Regions from separate parts of the Homo sapiens genome. Here regions 1 and 2 are each reported to be linked to region 3. The links are microRNA targets in miRTarBase. Many come from high-throughput screens and were not tested one by one. Region 3 holds a microRNA gene; each other region holds the end of a gene's coding sequence.
The links. Region 3 holds the annotated microRNA hsa-miR-125a-5p (UCCCUGAGACCCUUUAACCUGUGA, at 3,173-3,196, opposite strand). A microRNA usually pairs through its seed, bases 2 to 8, with sites in the 3' UTR of a target mRNA and lowers its output. Matches are read on the target gene's strand: a 7mer-m8 pairs with bases 2 to 8, a 7mer-A1 pairs with bases 2 to 7 and ends in A, and an 8mer does both.

Region 1: the mRNA of ATP5MF is a reported target of hsa-miR-125a-5p. The part of its 3' UTR that is shown has no 7-base or 8-base seed match.
Region 2: miRTarBase lists RAB4A as a target of hsa-miR-125a-5p. The part of its 3' UTR that is shown has no 7-base or 8-base seed match.

What each region holds. Positions count from the first base shown.
Region 1 is chr7:99,453,870-99,459,880 of GRCh38, reverse strand. ATP5MF (ATP synthase membrane subunit f) reads left to right here. Exons shown (of 4, transcript NM_004889.5): 3 at 618-734; 4 at 1,526-1,686. The coding sequence ends at 1,554. All of the region lies in intron 2 of ATP5MF-PTCD1 (ATP5MF-PTCD1 readthrough), which reads left to right. CPSF4 (cleavage and polyadenylation specific factor 4) reads right to left here. Exons shown (of 8, transcript NM_006693.4): 7 at 5,745-5,915; 8 at 2,508-3,449. The coding sequence ends at 3,381. Among named protein-coding and RNA genes, the nearest start is that of ATP5MF, 9.3 kb to the left of the region's middle. RefSeq lists an enhancer at 3,357-4,159.
Region 2 is chr1:229,301,056-229,307,066 of GRCh38, reverse strand. RAB4A (RAB4A, member RAS oncogene family) reads right to left here. Exons shown (of 8, transcript NM_004578.4): 7 at 4,078-4,205; 8 at 1,173-3,261. The coding sequence ends at 4,090. Among named protein-coding and RNA genes, the nearest start is that of RAB4A-AS1, 33 kb to the right of the region's middle.
Region 3 is chr19:51,690,453-51,696,463 of GRCh38, reverse strand. MIR125A (microRNA 125a) reads right to left here and starts at 3,210; the gene lies at 3,125-3,210. SPACA6 (sperm acrosome associated 6) reads right to left here and starts at 3,134. Exons shown (of 9, transcript NM_001316972.2): 1 at 2,724-3,134; 2 at 1,909-1,986. The coding sequence starts at 2,937. It overlaps SPACA6-AS1 (SPACA6 antisense RNA 1), which reads left to right and starts at 3,008. Exons shown (of 2, transcript NR_108100.1): 1 at 3,008-3,830. It overlaps MIR99B (microRNA 99b), which reads right to left and starts at 3,852; the gene lies at 3,783-3,852. It also overlaps MIRLET7E. RefSeq lists enhancers at 4,859-5,668, 5,669-6,011.

The DNA.
Region 1 (6,011 bases), not on the chromosome of region 3:
AACATGTTTCCTGTTGCTTGGAATCAGTATGTCTGCCTCTGTCTTAGAGAAATCCTAAGACTTCTTTAAGAGGAAAATGAATTGGAACCGTAGTGGGCATTAGTCTATAATATGATGCTCTCCTCCCTGCCAGAACTTCAGGACAAATATTTGAAATGGCCTATCTTGGCCTGGTGTGGTGGCTTATGCCTGTAATCCCGGCACTTCGGGAGGCCAAGGCTGGAGGATTGCTTGAGCCGAGTTTAGACCAGCCTAGGCAATATGGAGAGACCCCATCTCTATAAAAAAAACCACACAAGAAAAATTAGCTGGCTGTGGTGGTGCATGCCTGTAGTCCCAGCTACTCAGGAGGCTATAAGCTCACAGCCAAAGGGGAGAGGTGGAATCCAGGTAGGCCTAGTTCAGGAGCTGGTATGTGCTTATAGTTCAGGCTATGGGGATGAGAGACCTTACTGGCATTTGTGCTTGTCATCTTTATCAGCCAGTGAATGCAGGGCGAGGGGCTTAAACAGCCAGAGCAGGACTAGGTCCCTGAATGTCAGCCAGACTCAACTGTGTGCTCAACTTCACTCAAATGTGAAGCCCAGCAGGGCAGTGAGCGCCTCTTGCGTTTGCAGGTTACTACCGGTACTACAACAAGTACATCAATGTGAAGAAGGGGAGCATCTCGGGGATTACCATGGTGCTGGCATGCTACGTGCTCTTTAGCTACTCCTTTTCCTACAAGCATCTCAGTGAGTGCCTCTGCGGCGTCTTGCCTTTAGTTCCCATGAGAGGGTGGTGGTGACTGATTTCATTAGATACAGCAGCCCACCTTCTTCTGAGGCTGAGGGACCTTTAGTTAAAGTTCCTTATGTTTCCACCTAAAAGAATTGGAGGGACCTATCAGAGTACAGTATGTGGGATATTGTTTGAAATGAGAAAATTGTGACAAAGAGAACACAGGAAAATCAAGATGAAGCCAGGGTAAAGAGAGTACTTAGAAGCATTCTTTAAAATACAGCACACTGTGAAAATTTGGCTCGATTTTCCTAGTAGCCAATGCAGAAAGAGAAATGAGTTGAGTGGGATAATCTGGTACCCCAGAAAAGCATGGCTGTTCCGGCTCTGAGGCTTGAGAGGAGCTTGTCTGGTGGGAGATTGGCGGGAGGTGTCGGTGGCAGCCTCTGACTAGGCTGTTTCTGACAGTGTAGTGTACACCCCCTACCCCCACCTCACTCCCATTCTGTGGCACCAGGGCGGTCCTGCCTCTGAAGGACGGGTTCTCTGGGGCTGTTTGTCTGAGCGTGTGTTCCCTCTGTTCCTTCTGGAAAGAAAGTGGTTGGCCAGGTGGCAGGTTGGCTCCTGAGGTGTCTTTGTGCCCCCCGGGTCTGCTGATTCTGCAGAGACACCGGCAGGCGGGTCATGGGTCATCTCTGAAGGGAATTCTCAGGAAGGCTTTGTGTGATCTCAGCCTGCTTCCTGCCATGCTGTGCCTTCACTGTAACCTTTTAAGATACTTACCATCTTGCCTTCCTGACTTCAGAGCACGAGCGGCTCCGCAAATACCACTGAAGAGGACACACTCTGCACCCCCCCACCCCACGACCTTGGCCCGAGCCCCTCCGTGAGGAACACAATCTCAATCGTTGCTGAATCCTTTCATATCCTAATAGGAATTAACCTCCAAATAAAACATGACTGGTACGTGTGCTGATTGCCTGCCTGTCTGCCGTAGCCATTATCCCATGTTCCAGGGGCTCCTGTGGCACAAGGTGGGGGGAGGTCGTCTTTCCAGGCCGTTGACCGGTGAAGGCCTTTGTGGACTTCCCAGACCACCACTCTGGTCGTGTCCCAGCTCCCTGGAGGGCAGGGTGTCATCCAGACCTTCCCGAAGCAGCAGTGCCGAAGTCCGTCCCTTGCCATGAGTGCTGTGGGCAGGTGCATTTGCAGACATTCTGGCCTTTAGTTGGCTGGCCCTTTATGGTGTAACACAAAGGCTTGCGTACCTGAGAGCGCCAGATCCCACCCCGGCTGTCCTGTGGCTCCAGGCAGGGATGGCCCGCATCCTGTGTTTCTGCATCACCCTGGGGCATCAAGGGCTACAGGGTGAGGTGACCCGGCACTGTCTGGAGAGACCTCAGGCAGCACTCACGCCCAGGCTGCAGGGATTGTGGCCCTCCGGCTGAGGCGGCTTCTCTAACAGGAGGCTTAGTGGGTTGGGGGTGATGGGGAAAAGTGAGGGGCTATGGCGGCCCCTCCCTGCTTCCTCTTCATCAGAGCCTCATTGGGGGTGGGATACTGTGCCCCAGAAATAGGTGCCACCAGACATCTGAGCTGAGGTGGAGGACCTGCCTGCTGGCTCCACAGATCAGACTCCCAGACTTGACCAGCTGCTTGCAGGCCTTCTGGGCAGCTGCACTTCCCTTTGTGAGGCTGACATTTGTTGAAAGGGACAAGAAAGCTACGCCGTGATTGCAGCCAGTGTAAAAGGGTTGGCATGAGACCCTTAATTAATGAGACATGGCTTAAAAAACAAGCTTTAATCCATTTCATAAAAATTGTTCTTGCAATTGAACACAGCCAGGCCCACATGCCCAGCAGGTTGCAGGAGACAGTTTCACATTTTCCAGGCTCAGGACAGGGCAGTCTCCTCCACATGCCACAGGTGTCTGAGTGACAGTGTAGACGCCTGATGGGCAGGAGGTAGGCACAGATGATCTGAAGGGGTCATCTATTTAAAAGTCTGCAACTCCAGTTCAACGGACACCTTAAACACTGTCAGGCACGTACCCCAAGAGAAAATTAAGCCCAGAGAAGAAAACCTCAGGCTTGAGAGCCCTGTACCCCTCCTCAACCGCTGCCACCTGGGACCAGGGCCAGCCTGAGGCAATGGGGGCACCTGAATTTGCCCCAAAGGGCTCCCTCATTCAAATCACAGATATAGGCACAGCTTTAGGATTCAGCAGGGCAGGGAGGGAGGAAGCAGGCGTGAGCTGGCCACAGCTTTGAATGACCTACCAGCCCCTGGCGTCACCAAGAACTGGTGTTTAATGAGGGGAATGACCACCGCCACACAGAACTACCTAGCCAAGCCCCTCCCCAGCAGCTGCCTCCCTCCCTGGATGAGGGGAGTTGTGCCGGGAGTCCCAGAAAGGAGGCATCGATGCCCAGCCAAACATGATGTCGACTGCAGGGACCCACAGGACACATGTCCCTTTTTCAAAAAATACTAAGGCAAAATGATAGGAAACTAACAGACGTGGCCCCTCAGAGTGATGAAACCCACGTGTCTGCGGGCCAGCTCGAGCCACAGTCGCGCCAACAAGCGCATGAAACAGTTAAATGCACACTCCCAACAGCGGGGCCCCCGGGCTGCTCGGAGCTGGCTCCAGCTGCTGTCACTGTCCACTGAGAAAGGCCAAGTGCCCTTTGGTGCATCTGTTGGCGTAGTGTCCTTTCTCGCCACACTGGGAACAGCAGGAAGTGGGGGAAGAGGAGAGACAGACAACAACACTGTTCAAATGCAGTTTTCAACTAAGGGAGTGCCCACCAAATCCCAAATCATCCACCAAGTCCCCAGTCGGGACATGACTCTGAAATTCTCAGTGGTACAGAGTTTCTTTCAAATTAGAGGGTGAGGGAGCTCAGGATGGAAAGTGCAGTGGTGCAGAAACTAGCCAGCAACTCCGCAGATGCAAGGGAGAACAAGGCCGCCAGAAGGCGACCTGCTAGCGACCTGCTCTTTCAGGCCCACAACTCTCCCACCTGGACACATGGCCTGCCCAGGGAGGGACTCCCAAGTGGGTAGCAGGACAAAGAGAAGCCCGTGGCACCTGAGCTCCGCCACCCCGTCTGGGGACCAAGCCCTTCTGCACCACAGGCCAGTCACTTACCTCTGAGCCAAGGTCTGGGGTTCCCTGGCAGGAGATGGGAGGGAACAGCATCAGAAGTGTCCCAGCCTCCCCTCCCTTGGGGAGCCACTGCTGGGGACAGAGGGTGGGCTGTACCCAACGTTTTCCCTCGTGGCTGTGACACACCTAAGCTACCTTGGGGACAGGTTTTGATTACAGGATCAGAGAGATGGGACGATGCTTAGACTTGGGTAAGGGGAGCCTGCAGAGCCACATGACAAATCCAGCCCTGACCCTGCCTCATCCCAGTCCTGATTATCCAGGCCCTTCCATAGCTTCTCTTTACTCTATGACTCCTAAAACGGCAGCCTCAAGCACTGAACAAAAGGGTCAGGAGGCAGCTGGGGGCACTGACTCTGTACTGACACCCACCCCTGAGTCCCTGCTGCCCTGAGGGGCTCTGCCCAGTTGGCACCCAACACTCTTGCCAGCTCTATTCCCTGGCTCTGCAATTCCTGTTTTCTTTCTTCTATGTTGGCCAGGATGGTCTCGAACTCCTGACCTTGTGACCTGCTCCCCTCGGCCTCCCAAAGTGCTGGGATTACAGGCGTGAGCCACCGCACCCAGCTGTCCCTGTGTTTTCAACTTTGTCTGATCTGCAGGTGTGACTCTGTATGGAGAGGCTGCCGATGGGCTGTAGGGCTAACATGATGGCTGGGGGAGGGACCACACACCCTGCTCACGGCATCTGGCATGTCTGTCGGACCCCACAGCTGACTCTGGGGAATCCAGGACTTACATGAAGTGTCTCTGACATTAATGGGGTGACAGGCTGTGGACAGGGGCGGTCAGCCCTACCTTTCTAAGGCTCCAGGACTTAAGGGCGCTTGCTGCACAGAAGTGGCCCCGCTTAACAGGCCTGGAGGGTGGCAAGATAACAGCTAAGTCTGCTCTACACAGTGCCCCACTTCCATGCTCTTTTATTTTTTTGGAGACAAAGAGTCTCAGTCTGTTGCCCAGGCTGGAGTGCAGTGGTGCAGTCATAGCTCACTGCAGGCTTGACCTCCTGGGCCCAAGCAATCCTCCCATCTAAGCCTCCCCAGTAGCTGGGACTACAGGCGTGCACCACCACACCCAGCCTGTTTTGTGATTTTTAATCTGGACTCATTCTTCAGAACTCCAGCTGTAGGAATTGTGTGCGCCTTGGGTTGAGAACATACTCTTCAAAGAGTACTGGGGGTTACTCCTGCCACGTGCCAGGGACACACCAATCCTGGGGCGATTTTAGATTAGAAAACTTAGTTTGTAACTTTCCAGCCTTAACCAAGGACATGAATACAGGCCTAGACTCACATAAGGGCCCATTAATAACGTCAAACTATCAAGAGATTTTCCTCCCCTTTCCCCGCTTCCCACAGAGCCAGGAGTGAACAGGACAGTTTTCGAGGAGGTTTCTTGAAGCTCACCCTTCCTGAGTCCCATTTTATGTACTGGGGGAGGGGATGGGGACAGGGGTGCTGTAACCCAGTGTCCTGTTTTCTCGGGTGTGCCCTGCAGGATCCAAGGATGCCCCCAGGACAGCCAGCGGCTCCAAGGGCTCACCCTTCCCTGGATCAGTGTTTCTATTTTGTTCCCGGCCTCTTGGGGGCTTCCCTCACCTGCCTGCAGGCCCCGTCCATTCACTAGGCAGGCGTTCTCACCATCCTTTACCGTGCCTCAGTGCAGTGTGGTAGGAAATAGGACAGTCTCTAGCCCACCACAGTGGATGGTAACTAGACTGTAACTTTATGCTTACAATCAGCAAAAATGAATGTTTTCATTTTTCTCATTTCACCAAACACATGGGGCATGAGGGAATGGCCACTGACGGTAAGGGAAGACCCCACCCTGTCCCCCAGCCCAGGGACTCACCTTGTAACAGGTGACCTGCTCCAGTGGCCGGGGTCCCCGGTTGCCCGCGCTGCTGTTTTGACTCTGCATGACCCCGATGACCTGCGGGGTTCTCTGCTGATTGGGAGAAGAGTTCTGACTCGTTAACTGGATCAAGGAGGACGACCTTTGTAATGGCGGATTGTTACTTTGCTGGAAAGAGTTACACAACACGGTTTTACTGTGGAAAACACGTGCACGCAGACTACCGATGGGGACAGGAAAAAAGAGGGCGGGACTCGTCCCGCA
Region 2 (6,011 bases), not on the chromosome of region 3:
TTTTATTTTTTATTTTTATTTTTTTTTAGATGGAGTCTTTCTCTGTTGCCCAGGCTGGAGAACAGTGGCATGATCTTGGCTCACTACAACCTCTGCCTCCTGGGTTCAAGCAATTCTCCCACCTCAGCCTCCCAAGTAGCTGGGACTACAGGCGCCCACCACCACGCCTGGCTAATTTTTGTGTTTTTAGTAGAGACGGGGTTATACCATGTTGGCCAGGCTGGTCTCGAACTCCTGACCTCGTGATCCACCCACCTCAGCCTCCCAAAGTGCTGGGATTAGAGGCGTGAGCCACCGCGCCCGGCCCTGAGTATTTTTGGGTGAAATGACAGATGCCTCGGATGTTTTCAAGTACCATAGTATGAAAACGCTGGGTAAAGATAAAGAAAACAAGATCGCAAAATGTAGGCAATTGTTAAAGCTGGCTGATATAGTGGTTCATTAGGCTATTTTTCTCTACATTTGAAAATCTGTTATAAAAAATTTATAAGTATATAAAGGGAGAATCTATATAATTCATAATATAAATTTATATTTATATTATATTATACCTGGGGGGGGCCAGGCATGGTGGCTCATGCCTGTAATCCCAGCACTTTGGGAGGCTGAGGTGGGAAGATCCCTTGAGGCCAGGAGTTTGAGACCAGCCTGGGTAACACAGTGAGACCCTCCCTGTCTCTACAAAAAATAAAATTAAAAAAAAAAGAAAGAAAAAGAAAAAAAATGAGGGGGATATATGAAGGAAAAAAGTACATAAATGCTCTTTTAAAAGAAAAAAACAGATTCCCTAACCACATTATTTTCTATCAGTAGGTAGTAGGTAGTGTTTTCTAAACTTTGAGGCTGGTGACCAACAACTTGGGTCACTTGTCCTACTGAAAGTGGTAGATCTTGTGTTCTCAGATAAATTCCTCTAAAATTCTAAAACAACCCTTTAAAGAAATAAATACAATAGGGAAGTAACCAAGTCAACAAGTGGGACAAACTCAGACTGTACGTACAGGAGTAGTTAGATGGATCAGGAAAGAGGTGCTTCACAAATGGCACCACAAAATATTAAAAATTCACAGGTTTTTTTTAAAGCACCTCTAATGTGCCTCTCCAAAAACATAAAAAGATGTCAGAAAATAAGGAAACATCATCTGCTGTGTCACAGTACAAATTACAAATCATTTAGGTTTCTAATTTTAGCATCAGATTCTTTAAATACTATTATTGATCTGCTAAGAATCAATGTTCTTGAATTCAGCCACTCTTATACAAGCCACAAGTAATGTTTTCAACAAAACCATTACAGATTCCCAAATTGTGATGTTCTCATTTTCACTTAAATGCTGGACTGTAAAAGAATAAATTACAATCTCCAGTTTAAATGGTCTTTATAATCTTTTTCTAGGAAGACTGAATAATTACTTTCCTAGAAATCTAAATTAAGAGCTTCCTGAAAACTTAATGAGTTGCGGGAAATAGAAACATGACATTTATTACTAGCCTGAACAATACCCAATTATCTCTCCTCCTCATTCTCCCTAAAGGCAAAGCCTGATTAAGAACCACCATGGTTTGGTTCTCCAGCAACTTTTATTGGCCAAAGGATGCAGAAGGATATATGGTGTCTGTGGTTTAATTAACAGGATCGTTTATAAAACAACTTTACATTTATCTTATTTTTAAAATTCTTGCTTTTGAATAAGCTGATGTGTTAGAATAGACATGCTCCTATCCCATGCAAAAAGCTGTTCAAAAATGAGCAGCTTGCAAATCTATCATAAATGAGACATTGAATAAAATATTCTTACAGTGAGGTCTAAGAAGTAGTTCAGTCTGAGAATTTGCTTCAGATACTTTTTGAAATAAAATATTCAAGGCATAAAAAAAGCAAAACTCAAAATATCTAAAACAGATACATACTGATATTTTTATCCTAGTCATTTCCCAGAGTTTTTATGTGTCTCTGTGCTCTGCTGATTAAAATAAACAACAAAAGCAGTAGGCATCTTCTAACTAAAAGTTAATTTACTAGTCTTCAACTAAAAAGTCACAGTGGAAGAACATATATAAGGTGAAGAAAGCTTTTTAACCTTTCAGATTTAAATAATACTGCATTTCAACTTTAAAGAAAGGTTCCACCATATATTTTTTGCACTGACATTTTAAAATACAAGAACAAGTCTTTGTAATACAATATATACTTCAATATACCCAATATACCTTATATGAATTAAAAACATGTCAACTGGATAACTGTAGTAAGGCATTTAAGTATTCAGCAGAAGCCATAAAGAAATTTCTTAATGAGTGGTGTCCATTTAATATTAACTGGATTTAGTAGGTTTCCTTAAAATGAACAGGAAACAAAAGATGTGAAAAACAGGCAGTGATGCCATTATACTGAATTCCAGAAAAAGCACAGTACAATGTGTTTTCTAGCAGGGAGACCAGCAAACTGGAAGTGGATGAGCGGCCCCAGCTTACATGGTCTATTGTATTTGATCAACTGCTGAGAGAAGTATTAGTAGCCCAGTAGGTTTGGGTAAAGGTACCAGAATCCTTAGTGCTAGTCTCACAGCCAAAAACAGAGCAGGTACTCCAGATATACTTCCTGAACTGACCTGGATGAAGAGGCTTTAAAATCAACAGAGCTGGACAGTATAAAGTTCACGGAAAAACTCAATTTTTCATTTTATTTTGGTATATTAGTGAATGTCTACTGATCTAGTATTTCAAGTGTGGATCACGTAAACACCATGTAGAATGTAGTAAACGGAGTTAAATAAGAAAACACACTGGCTATCAATGCCAGAGTCTTTGAATATCAGGTCATAAATATAACCAATTGTGCAATATAACCAACATGATGAGAAAAGCACACCTCACAATTGACAATTTTAGTTCATATGATTAAAAAAAATAAAATCTGAAACTGCATTTAGTGCCACATTCTATCATATCATACATCAGATTCCATGCTGTGGAGCCGCACTGGGCTACAGGACATACAGTACATATAGCATGTTTTAAACCGAAAGTGAAAGGAAAAATATGAAACAGAAAATTTTTACATACACATCTAACGGTGTTGTCCATTTAATTCGATTTATATGATTTGCTGTGCCACTTTGACTGGCTTGCAGAACACCCCAAATTCTCTTTTCCCCATAAAGATCTACTTCCATACAGAGTAGAAAAAGATGGTGGTAAAAAAAACTTCAGATTCTTCAGGTTCCAACGATTGTGTCCCAAATGCCACTGTATGAACACCTAAAAAATATTAAGAACAATTTCAAAATCTGCATAACTATAAATGCAAAAGTAAATACAGCTTAAAGCCTAAAAGAGAATTCGTGAATATCTTGTCTTTTAACACTTGCCTGTGCCTACTACATGATGTCGACTATAAATAAAACGTCCACTGTGGTAAATGGGAAAAAAGAAGAAGCTTTAAAAAGTTAAAGGGAGACATTTGTCAATTTTATAAATAGGCCTCCTGTTTTAGCAAAAGGCACATTCATTTAGACCTCAATCAATCCAGGAAGGGCTCCTCACTGACATAAGGAATCAGGATATCTCACCCTTCCCATCAACCACCACCTGCCCTTCCTTTCTTTCTGAACAAGAGCATAAGAATTTCCTATAGAGTATAAATTCTTTCAGTTAGAACATCCAACTTTAACTTATGGGTTCTTCTCCTTCTCTTTTTTTTTTTTCTGAGACAGTTCTCACTTTATCGCCCAGGCTGGAGTGCAGTGGTATGATCTTGGCTTACTGCAACCTCCGCCTCCCAGGCTCAAGCAATTCTCCTAAGTTTCATGAGTAGCTGGGACTACAGGTGCACGCCACCACGCCTGGCTAATTTTTTGTATTTTGTAGAGATGATGTTTCACCATGATGCCTAGGCTGGTCTCGAACTCCTGAACTAAAGCAACTGGCCCACCTCAGCCTCCCAAAGTGCTGGAATTAGAGCCACTGCACCCGGCTGGGATCCCCTCTTTTTCATACTGCAGCTTCCCAAAGCTTTAACAGGCCTCTGCACTTGAGCTTGCCAGGAACTCAGGGCAGGGAGGTGTCCAAACCCACCTGTGTGCTCTCCTAACAACCACACTCCTGAGCGTTCGGGGCCTGTGCGCGCCGCGGTGACCTCAGCTGTCTCAAGGCAGCATCTCCGTACTGAATACCTGAGCCCATTCTTTCTGGGTCCAGCTCACCTAAGGACCAAGCAAGTCTTCTTTTAAAAAAGGCTTTTATGTTTCTTTGATTCCAAAAATAGATTAAAAAAAAAAAAAGCAAAGTACAGAACACTGTGTATATATCCCACCATTCTGAATAAAGGGAAAAAACTATATATATGTTTGCTTGCACCGGCACAAAACATCTCTAGCAGGATACATAAGGAACGGCTGATTCGGAGGAGTTCTAGATGGCTGAGGACAGGAGGGGGTGGTAACAGGGGGACTTTTCATTGCATACTCTTTTATACTTCTTGAATTTCAAATTATGTGAATACATTATTTATATAAAATAATTTAAAATTAAATTACAAAGATATAATTTTTCACTTATTAGATGGGCCAAAAGTCCAAGTATGATGATACTACATGCTGTGGACATGGCTTTAGTGAAATAAGCCCATCACTAGGAGAAAATGTGACAGCCTCTACACCAAGATCCCAAATGCTTATGTTCTCTGACCCAGCAATTCCACTTCTGGGCATTTGTCTGACACACAGACTCATGCACATGTAAAAAAAAAAAAAAAATATATATATATATATATATATATATATATATATATATATATATATATATATAATTATTTACTGTAACATTACTTATAATAGCAAAATACTGGCAACAACCCAAATGTCCAAAGTAGACTGGCTCATGAATTATGGTAACACATAGGTTGAGCGGTCCTTATCCAAATATAGGTTGAGCAGTCCTTATCCAAAATACTTGAAACCAGAAGTATTTTGGATTTTTTCAGATTTTGAAATATTTCCATTATACTTACCAGTTCAGCATCCCTAATCTGAAAATCTGAAATTTGAAGTGCTCCAATGAGCATTTCCTTTCAGTGGCAATGTTGGCAATTAAAAAGTTTCAGATTTTGGAACATTTTGGATTAGGGATACTCAACCCATATTACACATTACACACACACATTATGTATGACATTATGTTATATATATGTACCTTATGTATTATATGTATATACGGAAACTATAAGCTGATTTGTAATGATTTGTAGGTTATACAATAGTAAGTAAAAAAGCAAGGCGTGGTAGTCTATCATATGATACATTTTATATAAAAAAAGGGAAGAAAACAATGGTTTCTGAATGTATTACCCATTAAAAAAATAAAAAGTACTGCTGAAGAATCCTAATTTATACTCTTATATTTTTTTCACCTAGAGGTACTTATGATTTTGATGATCTCAGAAAAAAACACATCTTGGAAGACTGCATATGAGTTGTTCTATCTGATGCATTCAGGGATACAATATTAAAATAGCAAGGTCATGTAAATACAACCTCATGCTGAGCTTAATAATACTCAACAGTAAGCCAACTGTAAGGATTTATGTAACAGTGTCTTGGTTTTTGTACCAAGCTTAGTAATTTTTTTTTCTTTCTGATAAAAAAAAATACAAAAAGATGACATGTCCACTTCTGTTGAAACCCAGCCCTTCTACCTGGGCCCGACTCTCCTCCCTCCTACTTCACCTAGCACCCTCCTTCTTCCCTGCCCTCTCCTTGCCCATTCTTCTCTCCTTCCCCCTCAGCATTTAAACATGCTGGAATTTCTCCCATCACCCACAACCCCAGCTTTAAATTAACCCTTTGCACCCTACAGTGCCAGCCTGTGCTTCCTCAGGAGAGGAGTGGACACTCTGCTTGCTCACCTCCTACTTCTTCCTAACGGACGGCCAGCCATCTTCTACCTTCATAATTCTGCTGAAATTGTTCTTGATCAAAATGATCACTGACTTTCTATTCCCCATCCCAATG
Region 3 (6,011 bases):
AAAAACAAAAAAACTATCACCCCTTTCTCTTCCCCTTCTCTGTTTTCCTCCATGGCAGGGATCACCAACTGACATACTAAGATACTAAGATATTTTATCGATTATGTTTATTGTCTATCTCCCCAGACTCCACCCCAATATAAGCAACCCGAGGACAGGTGGTTTGCAGTTTTGGTCACAGCGGTTGTTCCTGGCACATTCAGTAAGTATAATTGAACGTATTGCACCAGCTTCTCCCGGCCTCCAGACTCTCCCTCTGGTCCATCTTTGACACGACCCCAGAGGGTTCTTTCTACACCCAGAGCTGCCCCTACTTCTTCACTGCTCACACTCCTGCTGCAGCTCCCCAGCGCCCTGAGGAAAGAGACTCAACACTCTCTGACTTTTCTGCTGAACTCTGCACCTAGGTATCTAGCTGCCTCCTAAACGTCCCTGGGACCCCTCAAAGTCACTGCCTTCTAACCCAGCTTATCATCTGCCCCCGGCTCTTTCTCTCAGGCTCCTTATTTCGGTGATGACCCACCGCCCAACAGGCACAGAGCAGGACCTGTCTCAGATGCTGTTCTCTATGCTTCCCAAAACAGCCCAGCAGACCTAACTCTCTGGCCCTGGCCCTTCTCCACCTTCACGGCCCCAGCCCCCACTCGGGCCTCCGCTCTGGCCTGGACCCTCACCCAGCCTCTTCTCTCTCCCCTCCAAGTTTGTCCCCCATGCGGCCCCACAGAAGGCTTCCATTCCCAGATCCAAAGGTTCCTCATCTTTTCAAAAGCTTCTGTAACAAGGCAGCCTATGTGGGGAGAAAGGGCATTTCTTGGAATCCTGCACACCCCCACATGGAGAGGTTTAGGGCCTCAGGTCTCCCTTTAGGGTGGAGATGGGGAGAGCCACAGCTGAGGCCTTCTCCAGGCTGGCCCTGGATGCCCCCTGGGTGGATGGGAACCTTCCCTCTTCCGGGATTGTTGACAGGACGCTTGGAGGGCAAAGCAGGAAGCAAAAGGAGCGACTGTGGGTGTGGGAATAAGCCCTGAGCTCCTGGACCTAAGAGGAAGCCAGTTTATTCTATAGCGCAGGGCTCTGTAACTCCTGCAACTCCGAGCCTCCACAGTTCCAGGGTCTGGCACCTCGTGGGGATCATGGCCATGGTGATCAGGCATGATTACCGCCCATGCTGCCCATCGGCATTGCGTGGCCCCCAGCCCTGAGGTCTCTTCGCACAGCCACACACCTCAAGGCTGTCACATGTGCCTGTCTCACCAGGACAGTCACACCTTGTCTCTTTTCACTGCTGTCACCTGAGTGATCCACTCTGCTGTTCCTGTTTTCCCGCCCTCTAATTGCCTCACACCTCAAAAATGTGGAATCACTTTATAAGAAATCTGTGTGTGTGTGTGAGTGTGAGTGTATGTCTCTGAGCGTGTCTGTGTGCGAGTGTGTGTGTGTTCTATCCTAGAGGAAGATGCCTTCCCTAAGATCAGGCTCATCAGGCAGCCCCAACCCCTGCACTGAGCTCCATGGCCATCCTAGGAGGCAAGAAGATTGTCCCACTTTACAGATGGGTAAGTTGAGGCCAGGAGAGGGGCAGTGACACACCCAGAACTTCATAGCCAGTAAGAGTGTGAGCCATGCAGCCATGGCAGAACCTATGCCTACCCGACCCCATCTGGACTTCCAGCTCTAGGCAATTTCTGCAGCGTCCCTTCCCCCTCACCACCTTCAGCCCCTGGCTCTTAGAGCTGCCTTCAGCCTTCGTTTGGACAAGTAGCTGAGCTCAATGTCTTCCCAGCTTTCCCCTCCCGGATCACTGCCCAACTCTGGGGGCCTCCTTCCTCTGCCCTGGGCCCTCCCACATACCCATTTCTTAGGGGCTCCAAGTCCACATCTCCCATCTCCCCATCCCCACACACTCACCCTGGGCAGCAGCCAGCTCCTGCAGGGCATGGGTCATCTGGGTGAAGGTGTCATGCAGGTGGCTTCTCTCATCATAGTCTGGCGGTGAGGGAGGGAGCAGGGGCTGGGGGAGGCAGCTCCCCGCAACACCATGTCCCTAATGCGAACATTCTGTTTCTGAGTCTCTGCCCTCCCAAGTCTGTATCCTCCCCTCTCTGACTCTTTGCCCCACAGTCGCTATGCTTCCTGAGTCCCTCCCAAGTCTCTATCCTCCCTGAGTCTCTGCCCCCGACCAGTCGCTATCCTGCTTCCCCTAGTCTCTGCCTCATCTCTGTCCTCCTCTCTCTGGGTTTCCATCCTCTTTGAGTCTCCATCTTCCACCCTCTGAGTCTCCATCCTCCCCTCTCTGGGTCTCTATTCCCTCTCCAGTCTCCAACCTCTCCTGACTCTCCATCCTCCCCTTTCTATGAGTCTCCATCCTCCTGACTCTCCATCCTCCCGAGTGTCCATCCTCCCCTCTCTGACTCTCCATACTCCTGAGTCTCCATCTTTCCGAGTCTCCATCTTCCTCTCTCTCTGAGTCTCCATCCTCCCCCTCTCTGAGTCTCCATCTTCCCCTCTCTGACTCTCCATCCTCCCCTCTCTGAGTCTTTGCCCTGCTGTCTTCCCCTGTCTGTGTCTCTCTGTCCCTAAGTCTCTGTTGTTCTCATGGTCTTTGAGCCTTTCTCCTCTGACTGTTTCTCTCTGTCTGTCCCTCAGCCTGACCCTCTGGGCCTCTCCTGCCCTCCCTCTGCACCTTCCCCAGGACACTGATGAAGTGTGGATGGTCTCCTCACTGATTTCGGTGTCAGAGAGGCCCTGGAAGGCGGCCGTGAAGGCCTCCTCACACTCTTCAAGCTTGGGGCTCCGCATCCCAACAAACATCTGGCAGATGCGGAGGCGCTCAGAGTAGGTTGTGAAGCAGAGGAGACAGGCCCAGGCGGGCACCCTGAAGACAGCCAGGGCCAGCAGGGCAGACGGGACGGCACTGGCCAGAGCCAGCAGGGCCATCGTGTGGGTCTCAAGGCCAGGGGAGAAGCTAGTAACCTTTATGAAGTCACCACAGGGCGGGGGAAGGGCCAGTGGTCTGGGGTCAGAGGTCAGGTTTCAGTTGGTGGTCAAATGTCATGCTCTGGAGGAAGGGTATGAGGAGTCAGGGGTCAGAAGTCAGGCCAGCAATTCCCCAGGTGTGTGGTTGGGCCAGACGCCAGGCTCCCAAGAACCTCACCTGTGACCCTGGATGTCCTCACAGGTTAAAGGGTCTCAGGGACCTAGAGACTGGCAACATGGTGTGCGGTGGCCCGGTAGACCCTGGGGTGGGGGTCAGAGATGGAGATAGGCACAGAGACATTCTGAGAGCCAGAGACAGAAAGACCAAAAACGACAGAAATAGAGACACAGAGAGATATCGGGAGGGGCAGAGACCTAGAAAGCCAGAATAAGAGGGAGTCAGAGGATCCACTGTGAAAGAGACACAGAAGCCACAGAGACACAGCAGAGATGGAGACAGACAGGGAAGGAAAACAGATTTCAGGGGAAGGAGGGGATGCAGGGACAAGGACAGAAAAGAGCCCGGCTCTTCCTCCCAGGGTCCCTGGGGCAGCCCAGTGGGGCTAAGGGTCCCTGAGTGGGGCTGGGGGTCCCCGCCGGGCCCCGTCCCGTGCAGGGCGCAGCCTGGGGAAAGCTAGGAGGCCGTATAGTGATCTCCTTGGGTGTCCTCCTCAACTATACAACCTCCTACCTCAGCCCGGGGGGCGCGGCAGGTGGACAGACCCGACAGACAGACAGACAGGGACCAGGAGGACCAGGGATGAGGGGGAGGGCCGGGGAGGCCCCAGCCGCGATGGTGAGCCCCCGACACGGACCCACAGACACGAGCTTGTGTGCGGCGAAGGCCCCGCAAGGTCGGTTCTACGGGTGGGTGCCAGGACCCAGGAGTCCGGGCCCCCGGCCCCTCCTCCCCAAGGAACCCAGGAGTCCAGGCCCTCAGCCCCTTCCTCATCAGGGACCCTGGAGTCAAGGCTCTCATCCCCCTCCTCCCTAAAGAACCCAGAAGTCTAGGCCCTTCCTCACCACAGACCCAGGAATCCAGGCCTCTGGCCCTTTTCTCCCCAAATGTTCCTGGAATCCAAGGACTCAGCCCCTTCCTCCCTCAGACTCATGAGTCCAGATCCAAAGCCTCCTTCTCCCCAGAGACCCAGGAGTCCCTGCCCCCAGCCCCTCCTCCCTCCGGCCAGGCAGGCCTCCTGGGGAAGGCATGGCCTGATAGAAAACCTGGCTTCCTGGGTGCCGGCTGGGAGGGAACCTCATTTGTCTCGTAATTTGGCCCTTTGGGCACACCTGCTTCCTACCTACCCTCCTGTCAGTCTGCAGAGACTCCAGGCCCAGGGCTAAGGAGGCCAGGGGCTAGCCAACCATCAGAGCCTCCCTAGGTGCTTTCTTTCCTCTCTCCTCCCTTCTTTGGGTCATTTACAACTATGACAGCCACAATCTCCCAGCGCTGACCCCATACCAGGCCCTGAGCACCAGTCCTCTCCCTGACACCTCCCACTCCAGAGAGCGAGGTGCCCTCAGCATCCCCATTTGGCAGGTGAGGGGGCTGAGCCTCAGAGAGGGGAAGAGGCTCCCAAAGTCTGCCCAGCCCCATCTCTGTCCTCCCTCTTGAATCCAGGAGGTGTCCCCAGCCTTCTCCAGCTTCTGGACCCCGGGACCCAGCACCCACCCTCCCCACCCCTGGGCTCTGAGCCCCTCCAGCTGGGGTCTCTCCCGTGCCCAGCCCCTCCTCCTGGACTGTCTGGTTCTCGCTGCCCCTGCTCCAGGCGCACCTTCCGGTTCCTTTCTCGCAGTCCAGGTCTCTCTGGCCCTGCCTTTTTCTCTCTCCCTCTTTCTTTCCACCTTCCCTGGTTCCCAGCCTCCTCCTGCATCAGGACATCCCTCCCTGGCTCTGCGCTGGCTTCTCTCTCTGCCCATCGCCTCTCTCCTCTCCCCGCTTCTGTTTTCTTCCTTCTCTCCCCCTCTTTCTCCTGCTTTTCCTCTACCTTCTGTCTTTCATCCTCCCCTTCTCCCCCTTCCCCCTCTTTGTCTCTCTCATTCTCTCTCTGGCCCTCTCTCAGTCTCTCTCCTCTTTCTCACCCTTCTCCACCCCCTTTTTTCGGATGTCTTTCCTCACTTCCTCTCCCTCCGCCCCTTCCCTCTCTCCATCCCTCACCTCCGTCTCCTGCTCTCTCTCAGTCTCTGTCTCTCTCCCTCTCTCTCTCCTTCCCTCCCTCTTAGGTCTCTCTCTTTCCTCCCCTCCCCCTTCTCTCTTTGGGTCTCCCTCCCTTCTCTCTCTCTCTTTTCTCCTTCCCTCTCTCCCTCCCCCTCGCAGCTCGAGCCAGGTCTGGAGCTGGGGGTGGGGTGGGGGTGGTTTGAGAAGGGGCCCAGGGCTGGGGTAGCGACCTGAGGAGGGGGAGGAGAGGCGGGAAAGGGGCGGAGGAGGAAAGGGGGAGGCGGGGGCCGGAGACGGGTCTACGGCCAGCTCTCTTCCCCCTTCCCTCCTTCCCAACCTCCCAGACCCTCAGGCGGGGGCGAGAGTCAGGCCAAGGTGGGGAGGAAGGGGAAGGGAGGAGGCTGCCCCCGCCCCCACCCCCCCACACCAACCTGGCCCGGAGCCCAGGCCTGGGTTCCCAGCATGCCCCGGGGCTGCCTGGGGCCTGAGGAGGAGGGTGAGGGGAGAGGGGAAGCCGAGAATCTCAGAGATTCCCCGGACCTAAGCATCTCCCCCACCCGCCAACCAGTGTCTCCTTGGGGAAACTGAGGCGGAGAGAGAAGGGTCAGGACTTGTTCAAGGTCACTGGACAAGGCGTTGGTGGAAACGCGAACTCCCTGGGCCCATAGCCCCGCTTTGGGGAAGGGGTAGGCTCTGGACTTCCCCCAGGCCTAGGTCCCCCTCCCCCTCTCTGCGGACCCTGGGGAGCCCCCAAGGGTCAGAGAGCAGACCCAAACAGTCTGGCACCATGGCAACTAGCTGGTCCCGCCCCCTTAACCCCTGGAGGGCTGGACTCCAGCTGGGGCTAAAGAGGAGGTGGGGACTCCTGGGTTCCGGA